Regions from separate parts of the Homo sapiens genome. Here all the other regions are reported to be linked to region 2. The links are microRNA targets in miRTarBase. Many come from high-throughput screens and were not tested one by one. Region 2 holds a microRNA gene; each other region holds the end of a gene's coding sequence.

The links. The annotated mature microRNA hsa-miR-4735-3p reads AAAGGUGCUCAAAUUAGACAU and lies in region 2 at 1,468-1,488, opposite strand. An mRNA with a match to its seed (bases 2 to 7 or 8) in the 3' UTR can be bound and repressed. Matches are read on the target gene's strand: a 7mer-m8 pairs with bases 2 to 8, a 7mer-A1 pairs with bases 2 to 7 and ends in A, and an 8mer does both.
Region 1: miRTarBase lists RAD51AP1 as a target of hsa-miR-4735-3p. Seed matches in the 3' UTR shown: 8mer at 898-905.
Region 3: the mRNA of ISCU is a reported target of hsa-miR-4735-3p. Seed matches in the 3' UTR shown: 7mer-A1 at 2,946-2,952.
Region 4: the mRNA of ZNF367 is a reported target of hsa-miR-4735-3p. Seed matches in the 3' UTR shown: 8mer at 371-378.

The regions. Positions count from the first base shown.
Region 1 is chr12:4,558,424-4,561,608 of GRCh38, forward strand. It overlaps RAD51AP1 (RAD51 associated protein 1), which reads left to right. Exons shown (of 9, transcript NM_006479.5): 9 at 434-1,624. The coding sequence ends at 570. Among named protein-coding and RNA genes, the nearest start is that of DYRK4, 2.2 kb to the right of the region's middle.
Region 2 is chr1:196,580,950-196,584,134 of GRCh38, forward strand. MIR4735 (microRNA 4735) reads right to left here and starts at 1,532; the gene lies at 1,464-1,532. All of the region lies in intron 1 of KCNT2 (potassium sodium-activated channel subfamily T member 2), which reads right to left.
Region 3 is chr12:108,568,756-108,571,928 of GRCh38, reverse strand. ISCU (iron-sulfur cluster assembly enzyme) reads right to left here. Exons shown (of 5, transcript NM_213595.4): 5 at 2,561-3,098. The coding sequence ends at 3,013. Among named protein-coding and RNA genes, the nearest start is that of ISCU, 7.7 kb to the right of the region's middle. RefSeq lists an enhancer at 2,844-2,993.
Region 4 is chr9:96,385,346-96,388,530 of GRCh38, reverse strand. ZNF367 (zinc finger protein 367) reads left to right here. Exons shown (of 5, transcript NM_153695.4): 5 at 72-2,590. The coding sequence ends at 294. Among named protein-coding and RNA genes, the nearest start is that of SLC35D2-HSD17B3, 3.2 kb to the right of the region's middle.

The sequences.
Region 1 (3,185 bases), not on the chromosome of region 2:
TATAAATAAATAACAATATTTGCCATTTTTAAAGGTATTTAATAATTGAAAAATAGACTCTTCAAGGACTACTTGTAAAAATTGCAGGACCTTAAAAATGCATTTGCTTTTTCTATTACTTTAGAAATTATAATTATATGCATTTTTGTATGCCTTTACAACTAGCATTATTTGTTCCCAGCCTTCCTTTTTCAGCTTTCATGGTGAGGTTTTAGTGTCATTACCTTGGCTTCTGGGATGTTTGGAAATAGGCAATACTGTATTAATTTCTGCTCTTTAGAACATTCTGTTCTTTTGATCTAGTTTATTGCTTGATAGACACTGGAAAGCAGAATAATGCTTAACTACCTTTTTTTTGCTGCTTATTTTATAAATTAATCTTTGTTAAGAGATTTCTGACATCATCAGCATCACATCATATGTTTCCTTTCAGCGGCATCTGGAGGTAGCAGAAGTAGCAGCAGCCCACTGGTGGTAGTGTCTGTGAAGTCTCCCAATCAGAGTCTCCGCCTTGGCTTGTCCAGATTAGCACGAGTTAAACCTTTGCATCCAAATGCCACTAGCACCTGAGTGTGGTACAGGAGGAATGTTTGGTTGGGAGAATCACAGCTTTACAAGGGTGTTTATATTTGATTTGTGTTTATATTTGAGGCAGGTATTGTAATATAAAGGAATCCATTACCATGTCCTATAAATGACCTCTAGCCATTTTATGATTATGTTCTCTGTAAAACTCTTCAAGACTTCAATGAGAAGTTTGTTTATAAGAATTATCTTCTCATACCTTTCCTTGTGAAGAGCGTATTCTGTTTTTCTATCAGTTCGACATGAAGTCCACATCACATGCTGTTCTTTTCTAGTTACATGATGTGCCTTTCTAGCTTTGTCTAGTTTATAGCACCTTAACTTTAACTGTTCAGTTTTATCTGGCAGAGGAAAACATTCTTATTTCTTTCAGAAGACATTTCTGAAATCTTATAAGCTACTTAAGCTACGTTGTCAGTTTTATCGCAAAGATGTTTTGTATTTTAGCCAAATCTTTTTATAGTACAAACTTAGAATTATTTTACACACTAAAATGGTTGCAGTTTTATGGCATATGTCTCCGATTTAGATGGTTATTCTCTAGAAAATAGTATTTAAAGACATTTTATGAAATCTTCATTGTCAAAACCTTTAATAAAAGTGGAAATATTTTGAAATGCCCTTTTTCTTGATACCACTCATCCACGTGTTCCTGATTGTCCACATTTCATGATAAAATGAGAGCTCCGCAGAGAATGTTAGCCTTTCTGTTGTAAATGTAATCTTCAAGTAGTCACTTTTTGTTAAGTTCTTTAGAAAGTAGTTGTCAAGTACTTAGTCATCCCTATTATGATATGAGATAGTACAGCTTTTCAGGAAGCTTAGATCTGAATTTACTTTGAAAAACAATTGTAATGAATATTTTATATTTACATTGAGAATTTCAACTAGCTTCTGATCAATTTTTAATAAAAAATTTTCAAATCATGTTAGCTGTTAAAAAATGTATAATAACTCAGTTTTTCTTGGTTTATGGAAATATCTATATTAATGTGAAAATAATTAATTTAGAATTGTGATTAAAGTGAGCATTTGTCTATTGCTGTTGTACACTTCTTTTATCTAACGTATATTTTTATAGTGTCATATACCAGCCCCCTAACCTGCCCCACCTGTCCCCTTTTTAAAAACATATTTTCCAGTTACATAGCACTGAGGTACTCTATTTGGTGTAGATCAACAATAAACATAAGAGCCTACTGTATATTAGGTACTGATATAATTGATTAATCATCTGGCACCAGCTCAATAACCTGTTTTTGCCGTGTTCTTTATAGTTTATCAGGGGATTTGAAAATTACCTCAAAGTATGTTAAAACCAGCCTGGCTGAAAGCACTGATACCTTTATGTTGCCAAACCCAGTGTACAATTTTCTCACCTAATCTTATACACCCTATTCATTATACTCTGATGAAAACATTTGATTTCCTTGGCTCATGTGACACATTTCTTTGTCATTTCTTCCCATCTCCATGCCTACTCTTCATTATTTTGCAGCTTTCTAATCTGTTGTGTCACCTTTACCTACTTGTCTTACCAGTTTCATGTTCTATGCAAACTCCAGGGGTCACTTATGTGACAGTGACTGCCAAGTCAGGGTCTGTACCCTATACCATGCTCTTGACAACAGAACCTGTGGATGGTCCACTGACAATTTGATGTAGCAGATCAGTTGTTAAATTCAACGTCTCCTCCTACCCCTGACATCTCTCCTGTGTTTTCTGTTGGTAAATGAATGGCACCACCATCACTGCAGGTGCCAAAGGTGTCATCCTGGGATTGAGTCTTCTCTCGACTTTCACATCCAGTCACCAAGTCTTACTCCATTTCCTAAATTTCTCAAAACTACTCTTCCATGTGCTCTCCCTTACTCTGAAACATCATCACTCACTATTTCTAACAGGCATCCTTGCCTTGATTCTTAACCTACTCGGGCCTACTTCCATTGTTATTGCCACAGAGGGTTTTATAAAATAAAGTCAGCATGAACACCCCTCTGCAGTCTGCACATACACACCTTACCCTGGTCGAGTTCATAGCCTACTTGGTGTCTGACTCCCCCTTTCCTGCTGCTTCAACCTTGTCTCTGCCCACGTGCAACTTTGATCCCTGCCCCACTAAACTGGGTGCTGGCACAATGGTACCAAGCTTTTCTATGGCTCTGGCCTTCAGAATAGGACTTGCCTCCTTTACGTAGACAACTACTGCCTGTCCTTGAAGACTCAGATTCAACTCAGCTCTTTCAGAAAGCTTCATTTGAATGTCTTTTCTGCCTGGACCAGACTGTGCACCTCCAGGTCAACCTACTGCCACTCAATTACAAATTTCCCTTTTCATGCTTTCTACAATCTGGTGCAGAGTAAGCACTCAAAAAGTGTTCAGCTGATATATGGATTTTACCCAGAACTTTTGCTATGTACTTACTTTTTTTCTTTTTCTTTTTCTTTTTTTCTTTTTTTTTTTTTTTTTTGAGATGCAGTCTCGTTCTGTCGCCAGGCTGGAGTGCAGTGGCGCGATCTCGGCTCACTGCAACCTCCGCCTCCCGGGTTCCAGCGATTCTCCTGCCTCAGCCTCCCAAGTAGCTGGGACTACAGGCACG
Region 2 (3,185 bases):
TCTAATAATAGCTGATTTTTGAGCTATGTACAATCATTATTTTGGCAAGAACATTTTTTAAAGAACAGGTAATTTCTTCTCAAGAAATCATCTTGACTATAGCTGCTACAGCTATTTACAAAACGTACAGTTTTTTTTTCAGAAAATTAAACATTGAAATATTAGTATATATGTGATATAGTCATTCTTTTAGCATTTTTACCTTTCTGTACCACATAGGCTTAGAATAAGATCACATAAATGCTAATCTGTGGCAAGAAAATATGGGTCAGATTGTAGTGTTTCGCTTTTTTTATTGTCATAGAAAAATTATTCTTACATGATACTTGAGGAGTAGGAAATATTTATTCTTAGAAGTTAATTTTGTAACCTCCAAATTCCATATGCCTATAAATATCTAGATCTGGACCAGTTTAGTAAAAAAAGTTCTATTTTTATATATGTGAAATACACATGTATATTCCAAACTAAGCAAAAATAAAACATTAAATTTAATAAAGGGTTTTACTTGCTCTTTACTGAAAATGAATGCCACCGGGTGAATATTGCCCCATTTTTTTCTGTCCCTTATTCCCTGAGGCTATTCCAAAATTTCAATATAATGAAGTTAACACAATACAAAGTCCTCTCAGTGGCCGACTCACTCTAGAGACATTCCACAAGTATCCTAAGGAGATGGGGGAAAGATGGAGGGGAAACTGTTATTAGTAAGAACATATTTTCTTTCATTTATTTATAAAAACTTTCCAAAAAGAGAAAGAAATCCCACTCAAGCATAAATTAACTTCAGTTCATTTTAAAAGTATTTACTAAAAGCTGTCATAAAAATATATCAAATTCACTTTCTTCCATTACTTATGTTTTGAAAACTAAGTCTTTCATTTTGTTGTTCTCCTATTTAAATTATAGTAGATGTGTACAACATGAATAGACAGATGACAGCTGGATAATAGGCATCACAAATGCCTCTATGTTCACATTTCAGGAAAATTATGTCTTTCATAAGAAAATTCTGTGGGAGAACCAATAATACTGCCAGTTCTTCAGGTAGACTTTAAAAAGTCTTATCATATATTTCAAAACCAACATGTATGTATTTAATATTTACTTATCAACTTCTCTCCATATGCCAGTACAACGCCAACTTTTTTAGGAAAATCAACAAAGACCCTCATCTCCACCTTCCCTTCCTACATCTTAGTATCCCCTTCCAGCAAGCCTAATGGCCAAGAAAAACAGGGTTCAAGTTCCTGGCTCTGCCATTTTCTAGCTTTGTAATCACCAACGGATTACTTAACTTCTCTATGCCTGTTTCTTCAGCTGTACAATGGGGATAATATTATGCTTTCTCGTTGGGCATGTAAAGTACTTGGAAGAATGCTAGTAAAAAGTAATGTTATATGCATGTTCTCTTAAGGAGCTAAAGATCCATGAATAGATTTCAACTTGACATGCGCAAAAAATGCAATGTCTAATTTGAGCACCTTTGGTATTTTTGATGAATACCGAAGGTGTTCAAATTAGGCACTGCAATTTTATGCAAGCAGGGAAGATAAACTTGCAGAAGTGGAGCTGAGATTTTTAGAAGTTTGGAAGGGTTGGTTAGAATGATAGAGGGCAAGTTTTGTAGCTGCCTTATAAGGTCAAGTTCCCAATTTCTTCAGTCCTGGCCACTACCTTAGTGCCTCCACAAACACCCAAGATACAGCAGCATTGACAGCATTGACTAGGCTTGGTTCAAACACTGAGTCCTTTGAATTATTCTCTCACCACCAATTCATTTACATTTCAGTGATGCATCAGGCAAGGATACAGATGAACCATGTCACCTGCTTCAGCTTGTCCAAACTAAATAAAGTAGAACAAATAGAGTACAATAAAGGTTTGAAAAGCATAAAATACAGAAGATAATACAGATTGCATAGGATTATAAAATATAATTATACAGGATTATAAAATATAATTATACAGGATTATAAAATACAGAGATTTGCATAGCGAAAAAGCCTTCCTAAAATGCTGAGATAAAGATTATGTAAGTGATAACTGGTCAAAAAATAGGTGAATATCATGTGACATGTAGAGGTGGAGTGGGATGTCTTCAGAGGTTGTTATTCATTCCAGAGAGAGGAATTGTCCAATGGCAGCCAGAAGGAAGACCTGAGGCAGAAAAATTAAAACACCTCTCAAGAGTTCAGATGAGAAAGGCAGGCACATTAATTAGAAGCGTAATAATTAAAATGGACTCATGAGGACAACAATTTGAGCCATCTATGAATTGAATCAATGAGATCTGTAGTGAACCAAGCTTTAAAAAGAATTTAATAATCCAGCCTTGGGTGGCTGGTTGCATGTTGGTACCATATTTAAACACAAAAAATACCAGAGGGTAAATAGTTTCAAAGAGATGACAAAATTAATTTTGGACACTGTGGATTGAAATGTCTGCTGAACATGAAAAGACACCCAGTGGAAAGCAGTCTATATAGTTTTAGAGCTCTGCACAGAGAAGTAAGACAAATATCATGATTTGGAAATCATCAACATATAATTACATTTATTGAAGTTTAAACAAAGCAAACTAGAAATGAAAAGAGCAAAGAACCAAGGAAGAATCCTTGATAAAACATAATTTTTAGTGCTAAATAAAAGAAGGGAAGACTGTAAAGGAGAACTAGGATAAGATGAGTAGGACATAAAACAAAGAAGAATGATATCATAGAAATCAAGAGAAGGAAGTTTCAAGAAAGAGGAGGAGAATCAGAAAAAAAAAATTGTTCATTGGACCTGGCATGAAAAAGATCATCAGAAATTTTAAGAGAAACGTAAGTAGAGCCATAGGGCAGAAGAAAGAATGCACAAGATAGAAGAGTAAATAAGAGCCAGGAAAGAAAAGTTCAGGTTAAAAATGGGTGGAAAGCATGGAAATATATAGGGTACTGAAGGTCTTGATGATATGTAAAAATGAATCAGTTTGGTGTTAGTAAGGAAGTGTGAACACTGAAAGGACAAGTTAGAGTTACATGGTGGGATGTTGCCACGTAAGTTTCCAGAAGTAGAGCAATCTTGGTCATACTCAGGTCCAGCCTAACAAGAGGGTGCCAGGCAGAATTGGATATAAAAGTCACCAAACTAAAGGAACTATAAAGGCAGGGTCTGGAACAGGGTATTACCTGGGCAAAGAA
Region 3 (3,173 bases), not on the chromosome of region 2:
TGTAGGGGCCCTCTAACACCACCAAAACTTGGTGGGACCTAGAAGTCTTCTCTTCTGTCGTGAAGATAGACACAAGGTCTGCACTCTTGCCTCAAGTTCAAAGGGCCTGAAGTATCGAGAAGTGTGCCTCATTTGTTTGTCTTTTTAAGAAAATTCATCCTAGGGCCAAGTAGTTTTTACAAGACAATGCTTAATGTGAGGTTCTAGAACTGTGCATTTGGATGTGGTCCCGGGTGGCCCTGGTCCAGGAATCACACTTAGGAAAGGTTACATCCGAGATGTGGTCATAGCTGTAGTGTGGCACTCAGGAGAGGGTGGGAGGTGGGCAGAAGACCTCAGCCAGAGCTCAATTCTACCACTTCCTAGCTGTGTGCCTTGAGGCAAGTCATTTCACCTCTCGGAGCCTCTGCTTCCCCATCCATCCATCTGCCCATAAACCCACCCAGCCCATCAGGTGATGCCAGTGCCCAGGCCCCACCTCCAGAGCATTGGATTTAACTTGGCATCAGGATTTAATTAGGCTCCTGGTGGGAGCCAGGGTTGGCGTGAGGGCCATGGTGCTTGGCAGCCAGTTGGCCAAGAGAATGCATCAGGCTCAACCTGTGTTGGTTCAGCTTCTTCATTGAATGTTCAAGGCACAGGTGAGCCTCTGATGTGCAGTTTGAATCCCTGGTGTGTTCTGCCAGGAGGGGTGAGGCAGAAGAATGGGCTTTGGGTCACTCAGATCAAGCCAGTTGGCCTGAGGGTCAGTTGGCTTCTTGAGCCAGTGTCCTTGTTTGAATCAATGCCCACTGCAGGCAGCTGTCATGAGAATTAACAGGATTACAGATGTAAGGGCCTGGAACAGAGCACAGGTGCTTGACAGACCATTTTAACTTATCTGTGGAGGTTTTCCATGGACAGGTTTATTTAGAGATGCTAAGACCTATTTGGAGGCTGCAAAAACCCCTAGACTTGAGTTCACTGAAGGGCACATGATGCCCTCATGTGGCTCAAACTAGATTTGTTTGGGGAAAGAGTGTCTTTAATGTGAATTTAAAAAATATCCATTTGTTTTAGCAGTACAACCACGTTTAGAGACTTGGGCTCTTCTGGGAATATTGCTTTGTTTATAAGCTCCTCCTGATGTTCAACTCTGAGGATGTTCACTGGGACAGAAATGTCTCATTTAAATTAAAAAAATCACAAAGAAAAGTGGTGGGGAATTGTGGTGGTGCCACATGTAATAAAGAAGGGAGAGACAAGCTCAGTCTAGAGGGACTGTGAATTAAATTGCAGAACATGCCACACAGGACAATTTTACATGGTTCTACCCAGGGTTCTAATTTGAGATTCCTATAAAGGCCCTGGTCTGTGGCTGCCTTCACAGACTACAGAAGGAACAGTCTTTGAAGTTCTGTGCCCTCCACCAGAACCCAGAGCATTAAAACAAAAAAACAAAAAACAACAAAAAAAACAAGGGAGGTATATTTAAGAGGCAGCCAGCCTATACCTGAACAAAAAAACCACCACCAGAAAAAACAAACACATCTTACTTTTGAAGCTGAACATTTGAGACTATGGCAGTCAATATTTCAATAACCCATTTTCACTAGAAGATAGGGCATCCTTTATTGAGATTTGCATGACTATGGGTAGCTAAAAATAGGGAGACATCAGGGTAGGAGGGCCCGTGCTTAGACTTATGCCCAAGCCAGGGATGAATGTTTGTTTGTTTGGCTTTGAGACGGAGTCTTGCTCTGTCTCCCAGGCTGGAGTGCACTGGTGTGATCTTGGCTCACTGCTACCTCCACTTCCCAGGTCAAGTGATTCTCCTGCCTCAGCCTCCCGAGCAGCTGGGATTACAGGTGCGTGCCGCCATGCCTGGCTAATTTTTGTAATTTTAGTAGAGATGGGGTTTCACTACCTTGGCCAGGCTGGTCTTGAACTCTTGACCTCGTGATCCACCCGCCTTGGCCTCCCAAAGTGCTGGGATTACAGGTGTGAGCCACTGCGCCCGGCTGGATGAATGTTTTTTAAACAACCTTAGGTGTACTATGCAGGTACAGATAGTTCAGAATGAACCACTTAAGATACTACATCTATGCAGAACACAGCATTCAGAAGTTTCTTCCCTAAAGTTTGGCTCATCTACGACCACAAAAAACCCAAGAGGTTCTTAAAAGTCAGGGGCTCTGGAATTACCTGCCCAGACAGAAGTCAGAAACTTGGGCCTAGAAATCCGCATTTTAAACTCATTCCCGAGGTGCTCTTCATGTATCTGGTCTACCGCTTTAGGGTGCCAAGCTAATGCTTTTTAGATTTGAGCAACCAGTGAAATTACAGAAAGAATCTTCAAGACTTACTTTGAGCTTTCAACTACTATCACACAAAGAACAATGACAAGCGATAATCATCTCCTTTCATCCTTGTTCCAAAAAATATTACGTATATTTGTCTTTGTTTGCTTGGAGAGCTGTGTATGTCACTGCGGTCCAACCTCTGGGAACCCCAAGGGGCTTTGGGCACCACTTCAGGGTGAATGATGGGCCCAAGAGACAAGGCTTACTAGAGAACACCATCATCTTCCATTATTTTATTATTTTTTATACATATATATATATGCGCAATCTGTTTTATGTACAACAATTGGTTCTATCAAATATTCAGACCAAGGCATTCTACTGGTAATTTCCCCCCAAATCAATTCAGGTAAAATTAGATACTTATGCACTTCACGGGCTATCAAAACTTGCAACTTCATTATCAATTTCAGTTCTGAGGTCATACACACAATTCAAAATATACATTAACTAGGTTAAGGCGATAAAAGTGGGCTGAAAGAAACCACAGGATTCAGAACAATGAAACTGTGTATTTTGCTTGCATGAGAGTCATAACGTGAACAGCAAGTATTGTGCGTATCTCATAGCTCTTCAGTGGAGAGGAAGCGGCTTCTGAACATCTAAGGTGACTGCACAGCAGGTGGGAAACAGCTGGTGTGGCCTGCTGGAGGCTTCGCCGAGGGAGGGCTCATTTCTTCTCTGCCTCTCCTTTTTTGGGTTCTTGTTTCAATTTGTAATCAGCCAGGGCGGCCTTGATTGCATCTTCAGCCAGCACTGGAAGTAACGGAAGGAAAGAAGCCTAAGTTTCTAGATGTGAAAGAAATGGACTTGGGAATAGAATCTTTAAGA
Region 4 (3,185 bases), not on the chromosome of region 2:
TTTTAAAAGAAAAGTAAACATTTGGAAATTTCATGTCTGCCATGTAACTAATGTTGCTGCATTTCACATAGGTATTGGGAAATGAGAGAGCAGCGCACCCCCACTTTGAAAGGCAAGCTGGTTCAGAAGGCTGATCAGGAGCAGCAGGACCCTCTGGAATACCTTCAGTCTGATGAAGAGGACGACGAGAAGAGAGGGGCCCAGCGCCGGCTGCAGGAGCAGCGGGAGCGCCTGCATGGAGCCCTCGCGCTCATAGAGCTTGCCAACCTGACTGGGGCGCCACTCCGACAGTAGCTTGGACACTGACTCTTCCACTGTACAAAAGTACTGCCCAGCATACTTAAAAAGTAGATCCTTGGGCATAAGCTAAGCACCTTATTTGCTTATCATAGGCTGCTATTCTGTAGAAATTTATGAAGAATGTTATTGCCCCAGAATATGGGGTGAGAGAGAACTGCACTTTTTTAATATGGAAATGAATTCATCGTAAAGTTTAAAATATTTTGTAAATATGGACTGCACAGTACAGGGTAGAAAACTACATATTGTGGGAAGCTAGATTTTGCAAGTTTAATGCATTCATTGGAAGCAGTTCTCACAGGAAGCACTTTCTGAATAAGACACTTGTTTGAAAAACAGAATGGTACAAATAGCCAAAGAAGATTAAAACAGATTATTTATAAGATCATTTTTAACAATATATATTAGTATGTTTAACAATACTGTAAACACTGAAGCAAGCAAGAAAGTATAAAATATGTAAGATAGATAATTTTAATTGCAAAATACTGTGCCCACTAAGGCTAGAGAAATGGGAGGCTATTTTGGAAGATGTTCTAAGTAATGGACTTAGAAGAAAATAGATATTTGAGGCTCTTGGTAAGATGCACAATAGTTCAGAATTTTTGAAATTGGAGCAAAATCAGTCTTATTCTATCTGGGGCTTTACAACTCAGTATAATGTTTAAGTTTGAAAAGCACTTGTCATCCCTAGCATGTTAACTTGGGAACTTTTGCACATTTCATATTTCTCATTTGCTGAAATTGAGTGATTAATCTTGCAAAGTCTAGGTAACATAGTAATTGGTAATTTTAAAAATACATATTAAGGGCCCTGTAATGAGATTTGGCACTTGGATTTTTACTAAAGGGACACCTGCAGGGTTGTTTTGTAGTGAAATGTTTTAGATCTTTTGTTAGCAAACACTACATTTTAATTGTACTGCTTGTTTAGAATTATTAGCAAATGGAAGCCTCCATATTTATATTTTCAGTGCATAAAGCCACCTTCTTGCTTTACTTCAGAGTAACATGCCAAGCTATTTTGTGTTCACTAAATTTAGCTATCAGTTAAACACTGCAGAAAATATTAGCTACTCAAATAAGTAGGCTTCTGAAATAGTTTTAACTGCAAGTGTGTTAACTTGTGTGGTGGTTTGAAGCCATTTTTCCAAATAAAGTTATTAAACACCACTTTATGTACTGAAGCATGAACAGAAAAATCAAGAGCTGAGCAGACCACCTCCTTTATGTAGGCAAAACTTCCATCATTTTGGCTTTTGTTCTAAACAGAACTAAATGACATGCATAGCATGGTAACTTACAGATCGCTTAATTGGAGTAAAACTCAGAGTAATAGAGGGAAATATGGGCTCTTCAGTGCCTTTTTAGCTTTTTTGAGTTGAAGACGTTCCTACAGATGTAGTTTAAACATTACAAAGTAGGCTTCTTTATCCAAAAATCCCAATGTGTCATAGTACACAGATAGTTTAAAATATGTAGCCACGGGGAAGGGGAGGCATGTAAATGTCTTGAAGAGGAGAAAAAGTATGAAAGAAGATACGATAGTTACGAATAATGTGTATGATGAGGACATACTTTAAAAATGTAATTCCTCTGTACAGTAAATTACAAATCTTTAGGGATTTTTTTGTAATAAGAGAATTTATATTTGTAATGGTCTAAGAATTTTTTTGTAATGTGGTATATAGAATTTTAATTTGGAGCACTTATAAGCTGGTAAGAGAGACTATAGCATCTGAATTATCTTGGTTTATGTTTCAGCATTTCCTCTAGAATTTTTGCTCTCAAATATGTGATTTAATGAACTAAAAACAACACTCATCAGTCTTGGGAAATTTGAACTTTGATCAACTTAACTAAAGAAGGAAGGGTAGTAAGAATTTTTCAAATACAAATATTTGCCAATTCACAGATGATAACATTTAAGGCCTTCAAAAGTAAGGGTTTTTCCTTGTTTCTCCAGTCAGCTTTTGTCAACTCTAATAGTTTTTTCATAAACATTTTTTATTTGTATAATTGCAACAGTTTAAGAAATTATCACAACTATTTAGAAACATTTAAAATGTTCTTTTTGATATAAGCTATATACTTGGAAAAATACATTGGTATCTAAAATTTGAGGTGTGTTAAGACTGCTTTTTGTTTTAAAAAATGGTTTACATTCAAATTTTTGAAGTGTTTTATGCTTCATATGGCTAAGTTGTAGTTTGGCAGAGTTAACAGCATAAGAATAAACATGCTGTAATTTTAAAAGATGCTTTGAATAAAAATTTATTTTAATTTAAAATTTAAAGTACACGGTCATTCTTAAAGCCTTTATCATTTGTTTTCCTATCGAAAATATAATAACCATGATATAAAAAAATTTAAAAGATAGAAACATCACCTACAGCCTTATGTTCAGCCATCAGTATTATTTCAGTACATGTTTGCGTAGTTGTAAGTACAGTGTGGATTGCTTTTTCTTACTTTAATTATGGCTTTTAAGGTTATAGATATTTAACTTCCTCATCGGGTTCATTACTACAGTGTTAAAAATATACTGCTGTGGATAAGTATTGAACTATTGCCACCCCATTTCCAGGCCTTAAATTAGGGTAATAAGGAAAAGGGATTTCATTTCACTTACATTTAGGATGGGTTGTCTCTGGGGTCAGCTCCTCAAGAATCCATTTAAAGCCTGTGTACTTTTCTAAGAGTCTAGCAAATTGGTTTTCTTTTTTCATCAGTTATTTTTGGTAGATCTTTAGTTGTGTATTTGCAGTGGCAAGGGTCAGCCTGTCCTACCCTTGTGCAGAAGAATATCACAAGCAACTCCTTAGTGTGAGTTGCTGTTTAAACAGGGTAAGGATGGGATTTTGACAGCGAGGTAAGGTCCTGGA